Regions from separate parts of the Homo sapiens genome. Here region 2 is reported to be linked to region 1. The links are microRNA targets in miRTarBase. Many come from high-throughput screens and were not tested one by one. Region 1 holds a microRNA gene; the other region holds the end of a gene's coding sequence.

What was found. The annotated mature microRNA hsa-miR-3925-5p reads AAGAGAACUGAAAGUGGAGCCU and lies in region 1 at 1,269-1,290, opposite strand. An mRNA with a match to its seed (bases 2 to 7 or 8) in the 3' UTR can be bound and repressed. Matches are read on the target gene's strand: a 7mer-m8 pairs with bases 2 to 8, a 7mer-A1 pairs with bases 2 to 7 and ends in A, and an 8mer does both.
Region 2: miRTarBase lists ZIK1 as a target of hsa-miR-3925-5p. Seed matches in the 3' UTR shown: 7mer-m8 at 871-877 and 7mer-A1 at 2,959-2,965.

The regions. Positions count from the first base shown.
Region 1 is chr6:36,621,212-36,624,621 of GRCh38, forward strand. MIR3925 (microRNA 3925) reads right to left here and starts at 1,301; the gene lies at 1,225-1,301.
Region 2 is chr19:57,590,682-57,594,091 of GRCh38, forward strand. It overlaps ZIK1 (zinc finger protein interacting with K protein 1), which reads left to right. Exons shown (of 4, transcript NM_001010879.4): 4 at 1-3,209. The coding sequence ends at 594. Among named protein-coding and RNA genes, the nearest start is that of ZNF530, 7.5 kb to the right of the region's middle.

The DNA of each region.
Region 1 (3,410 bases):
GGATTGTTCTGCAGGGTTCAGGCGACTGTTAGTATTTGATCAAGATTGGAATAGTCTCCTAAAACCTACTTGATCCTCACAGAAAAGTTCCTATCCCCATTGTGCAGATGTGGAAACTGAAGGTTAGAGATAGAAAGTTAGACCCTAGGGTGAGGCAATGGATGGCTAGGACTAGAACCCAAGGCAGGCTCCTAGGGCTCCTGCTTTTCCAGCACGCATCTACCATGCATATGTGCTACTACCAGGCCTGGCGCTAGGATTCACATCACTTTAGAGGCTGCTTGGTGAACATGGGCACCCACAAAAGCCCTGGAGAAGGCAGGTTCTTTCTCAGGAATGGCCAGTGGGTGTGAAGATCACAGTGTGGGAGAAAGATCAAGGAGGACTGAGGGCCACCCGACCAGGAATCATCTCCAGCAGCCTGTGGGTGACCGCTCGTCATCCAGATCAGCATCAGGAAGGTTCTGCACAACACCTCTAGGGAACACATGGGGATCGAGGTCCTGTGGCCGTCTTGGGGTCTGAAGATCTAGATTTAGCTTCTGGCAGTATCATGATGCAAACCTGGGCAAGTTGTTTTGTTCCCTGGACCTTGGTCTCTTCATCAGTGAAATGGAACTAATTATATTACCTCATAGGGCTATTATAAGGCCTAATAAAAAAAAAAAAGAAAGCATCCATAAACAATGTTTACTGAGCACTAGTAGTGCCAGGCACTCTTCACTTGTATTAACCCATTTGATCTTCACAAAAAATATTTTCTTTTTTGTTTGAGACGGAGTCTCCCTCTGTCGCCCAGGCTGGAGTGCAGTGGCGTGATTTTGGCTCACTGCAGCCTCCACCTCCCAGGTTCAAGTGATTCTCCTGCCTCCGCCTCCCGAGTAGCTGGGATTACAGGCGCCCGCCACCACACCCGGCTAATTTTTTGTATTTTTAGTAGAGACAGGGTCTCACCATGTTAGCTAGGATGGTCTCGATCTCCTGATTTCATGATCTGCCTGCCTCGGCCTCCCAAAGTGCTGGGATTACAGGCGTGAGCCACCGCACCTAGCCCACAACAAATTTTAGAGAGTAGGTACTATTGCTGTCCCCATTTTAGGAAACACAGAAGTTGGTTCCAGCCACAAGGAAGTGGCTTCATCCATCATCAAGAAGTTGATTCCAGCCCACGTGGATGGCTTTGAGGAGTTCAAGACTTTAGTGGAGGAAGTGATGAAAGATGTGGTGGAAATAGCAAGAGAACTAAAACTGGAGTCTGGAGATGTGACAGGCTCCACTTTCAGTTCTCTTGCTATTCCCACATGACCATGGTCCAGGATCCTGAGTTTATGTTCAGGAAATAAGACTCAGCGAAAACTTGCAGTCACTTTCATAATCATTAATGCAGAGATTCTCAATAAATTCTTAAGGCTCCACCACGCTCCAACATAAAGTAACACATTCAGTTTGTTACAGAAATGGTAATAAGGCAACACTATGCAATACTATGTGTACAATGCAGCACTTTGCAGTACCAAAATCCATGCCTACAAAGCACTGCACAAGAACACATACAAATAAAGGATATAGTAGAATGGCTGCCTGTGGGGTGGGGGCATGGAAATGACAATGGAGTGAGGGGGGAATACATGAAGCAAGAGGTGACTAGTCAGGACCAATGATGACAGCCAGCCATCACCTGGGGAATAGGAGGGACTCATCCCACTGCACCTGAGGACTAAAAATAAAATGGAATGGAAACAAGACCCTGGGTGAAATCACTCGGCCTGAAATACACTGGCCCTGGGCTCAAAGAGGAAAGGTGGGGACACATCCTGGGCTGCCTCATCAAACCAGGAGCCTGCAAGAGCATCCCTGTGTGTGTGTGGAGGGGGTGAGGACAAAGGGAGGGTCAACCACACCCAGTTCTGTGAGCTCAAACACCAGACTAAAGGCCACAGGCAGACCCTCCAAGGCCTCAGGGAAGGAGTGAAGAGAAAGGCCTGGGTGGTCAGTGTCAGAGGCGGCACAGTCACATGCTGTCATGCCTATTTCACCAAGGTTTAGCCAAATGCACTATTAGGGTGTCAAGAAAATATGGATATAGGGCAACAATCCTGTGATTGTATGATGACTGTAGGCTTGATCATCATAAGGGTCCTGCCATATGCTGGTCCAGTTGGCACACCCACCCATCTCCTGTGCCAGTGGAGTGTGCCTGTGAAACAGCAGTCAGCTCTTCTGGTGGCCCTGAGGATCGGGGTGAAGGAAGAGTGGATCTTCATTTAGTTAGTTTGCCCCTCTGCAGGAGGAGGGGAGTTGGATACAGACCTCTCCTAACAACCCGCCTGGCTACTGGAACCTTCCTGAGAAATGTGGTTAACCTCTGGGCGCAGAGCCAGCAGTTCTAGGCTCCCGTCACAAGGGGGCAGGATGGGGAAGAAAACAGGTTCTCAATTCCAGGCCTTGGACCTGTCAGGTTTGCTGGCAGGGGCAGGAAGGAGGGTGGGGTCGGGAGTGTGTGGTGGTTGATGAGGGATCCAACCATCGTTCCGCAAGAGCGGCTTGTTTATTAAACATGAAATGAGGGAAAAGCCTAGTAGCTCCATTGGATTGGGAAGAATGGCAAAGAGAGACAGGCGTCATTTTCTAGAAAGCAATCTTCACACCTGTTGGTCCTCACCCATTGAATGTCCTCACCCAATCTCCAACACAGAAATGAGTGACTGTGTGTGCACATGCGTGTGCATGTGTGAAAGTATGAGTGTGAATGTGTCTATATGGGAACATATATGTGATTGTATGTGTGTAACTATGTGTGACTGGCAGCGTGGGGAGTGCTGGTTGGAGTGTGGTGTGATGTGAGTATGCATGAGTGGCTGTGTGTATGACTGTGGCGGGAGGCGGAAGGGGAGAAGCAGCAGGCTCAGGTGTCGCCAGAGAGGCTGGGAGGAAACTATAAACCTGGGCAATTTCCTCCTCATCAGCGAGCCTTTCTTGGGCAATAGGGGCAGAGCTCAAAGTTCACAGAGATAGTGCCTGGGAGGCATGAGGCAAGGCGGAAGTACTGCGAGGAGGGGCAGAGGGTCTGACACTTGAGGGGTTCTAATGGGAAAGGAAAGACCCACACTGAATTCCACTTAGCCCCAGACCCTGGGCCCAGCGGTGCCGGCTTCCAACCATACCAACCATTTCCAAGTGTTGCCGGCAGAAGTTAACCTCTCTTAGCCTCAGTTTCCCCACCTGTAAAATGGCAGAAGTAACCAAGCTTACCTTCCCGGCAGTGTGTGAGGATGAAAAGAGCTATGTACGTGATGCACTTAGAAGAAGGTCTAGGGTGTGAGTGGTACTCGTCTGGTGGGTGTGGAGAAGACATTCTAGGCAATGAGGACTGGGGAGAGCCTGGCCCATGGCTTCCACTCAGCAAGGTC
Region 2 (3,410 bases), not on the chromosome of region 1:
GGAGAAAGGCCTTATGAGTGCAGCGAATGTGGAAAATTATTTAGACAAAACTCCAGCCTTGTTGACCACCAGAAAATACACACTGGAGCAAGGCCTTATGAGTGTAGCCAGTGTGGGAAATCCTTTAGCCAAAAAGCCACCCTTGTTAAACACCAAAGAGTTCACACTGGAGAAAGGCCTTATAAGTGTGGTGAATGTGGGAATTCCTTTAGTCAAAGTGCCATTCTTAATCAACACCGAAGAATTCACACTGGAGCAAAGCCTTATGAGTGTGGCCAGTGTGGGAAATCCTTTAGTCAAAAAGCTACCCTCATTAAACACCAGAGAGTTCACACTGGAGAAAGGCCTTATAAGTGTGGTGACTGTGGGAAATCCTTTAGTCAAAGCTCCATCCTTATTCAACACCGGAGAATTCATACTGGAGCAAGGCCTTATGAGTGTGGCCAGTGTGGAAAGTCCTTTAGCCAAAAGTCTGGTCTCATTCAACACCAAGTGGTTCACACTGGAGAAAGGCCTTATGAGTGCAACAAATGTGGGAATTCCTTTAGCCAATGCTCCAGCCTCATACATCACCAAAAATGTCATAACACATAGAGGCCTCATGAATGCAGCAAATGTGGAAGCGCCTTCAACTCAAGATCTATCATCATTTAGCTCCTGAAAGTCCACACTTAAGTAGAGCCTTAGACCTACAGGGAAAGTGCTGTCTCTGTAGTATTGTAGCAGTAGAGAGCCTTTGTGAGGGAGCCATCTGCCTGAAGTTGAACCTCATTCTTCCTTGTTTCTCTGGTAGAAACCATCTACCCTCTACCACCTTGCACAGTGGGCACTGGTCACTCCTATGTGCTAAGACAAGGCAGACATCTGTGTGTTCTCTTAAGTCTTTGGAGGAAATCTTGAGCAGTCTAAGCCTTTAGAGAAAATTCATTCTTTTTTCTGACTGATCACAGCATACGTGTGACCCAGTTTGGGTCAGGAGGGCCCAGCCTTGGTTCTGCTGGACACTTATGTGCAAGGATTCCCTTCATGTAAATTCTTGGTCTCACATGACACTTGGTCATTCTTCCAGCCTCCATGTCACCACGTGGTGAATGGCTGCCTCACATTGCTCCAGTTTGTGCACTAATAAAAGCCTTATATTTGAATCTACCTGTAGTCTTGGGGTTCTGTTTACTGTGTGGGGTGGCTGGGAGACAGACTTCAACTCTATATGAAGGAATGGATGGCTTTTGTGGGCCTCTGCAGGAAAGTAAGATGACAGAGTAATTCTAATTCTGGTTTTGGTCATACTTGCTTTGCTACCTAAAATCTCCTAGGAAAAAATGCAAGGTTTTGGTTATTCTAATTTGTGGCCTGGATCCCTATTCTTTCTGTGAGACTAGAGGTCATCCTGAGGAGAGGCCAGCTGTTATGACAAGCATGTGTGCTTCAGGGAATAGGACAATTTTATTCCATTGTTTCCAGAGGATGTCATATGATGCCCAGTGCTGCTGAGAAGCTTTTCATGGGGTTCTATAAGGAGGCATGCCCTGATATCAAACATTCCATAGGCCGATGTCACGCAGAAGACAACGCGAGTCACATGTGAACTGTAATTGGTACAGAAATACCTGGGTATTTCTGTACTGTGTGTACTGTAGCAAACTAGTTGGAATGTGCCTCTTATAAAAGTACATTTACAAATCTTCCCGTGACTGTGGCTTTGAGCAGTCATAGGACCTAGAAATCTGTGTATGTCCAATAGCTGAGGTTATTTTCAGCAAAAATAATTAAAGGGTTTTATTTTTTAATTCTTGTTGGTTTTCTAGGTTGTTCACCTCAAGTGCATTGCTGTAGAGGCAGAAAAAGGAGGATAAAGATAACAGAAGTCCTATAGGCCAGGGATGTATTGATAGCTCTTGTGATTTCCACCAGTGTTGCTGTTGTCTCAAATTGCCACAGCCTTCATTGCTTGCCAACATTTCCTGCATGGAGGGACTCATGGTTGCCCTTCCCCAGGCCTGAAGAGAGAGTGCAGTCAACATGAGATTGCTAGGCATTCTGGTTTCTGAAAGTTGGGTGATCAGATACTTTATTGTGAAACATGTTTTACAAACTTTCTTGATGTGTAAGTGACATGCCATAGTTTACATCCATTTATGGTGTATAATTTGAAGAGTTTGTCATACAAGCCTGTGAAACCATAATCATGATCATGAACATATTCATGATTCACCTCTTGCTGTTTTACAATCTCTGCGTGTACTTTCCAGGCCTTCAGGAGTCCTGTCATTTACTTTCCCTACAGGAGAATAGTTTGTGTTTTCTAGGATTTTATGTGAATTGAAACGTAAAATACTTACTCCATTTTTCCTGATGATGCACAATTTTTTTTTTTTTTTTGAGATGGAGTCTCAGTCTGTCACCAGGCTGGAGTGCAGTGGCATGATCTTGGCTCACTCCAACCTCCTCCTGGGTTCCAGCGATTCTCCTGCCTCAGCCTCCTGAGAAGCTAGGACTACAGGCATGCACTACCACGCCCAACTAATTTTTGTATTTTTAGTAGAGATGTGGTTTTACCATGTTTGCCAGGATGGTCTTGATCTCTTGACCTCGTGATCCGCCCGCCTCAGCCTCCCGAAGTGCTGGGATTACAGGCGTAAGCCACCACACCAGCTGATGCACAATTACTTTTAAGATTTATCAATATTGCTTATGTGAATAGTTCATTTGTATTGCTGAGAAATAGTCTGTGGATATGTCACAATTTGGATAAACAGTTGGATGCTTTCCAGTTTTGGGCTGTTGCAAATAATGCTACTATGAACATAGGCATATAACTCTTAATATGCAGAAATGCTTTATTTCTCCTGTGTCAGTAGTACAGTGTACGTGAATGCGTCACTTTTAAAGACAAGGCCAGACTATAACCTAACTGTACCATTTGCATTCTCATCAACAGTATGTGAACCTTCTTATTTCTCTACATTCTTGCCATACTTGGTATGGTTAGTCTTTTTAATTTTAGTTGTTTTAATAGCTGTATAATAGCATCTGTCTGTGATTTTATTGCATTTTTCTGGTATTTTATGGTATTGAACATTTGAACATCTTGTATCTAGTTGCCACCTGTATATCCTCTTTGGAAGAATGTTTATTAATGTCTTTTGCTTATTTTTAAATGGATGTTGGTGATACTTTTTCATTAATAAATAGACGTATAACAAAGACTTATGTTGAAACTTTACTCATTCTTCAGTAATGTGATGCACTTATTTGCTAAATGATAAAATTGTTTTCAAATACTGGGAAAATAATTTCTCAGTTTTTTGGTCTATTCACAGTGTAACAACTACAGACACTATATACCTGAAACACTACCTTCATTGACAAATTCTCCATCACTTTCTTAGGTCTAACCATTCAATGAA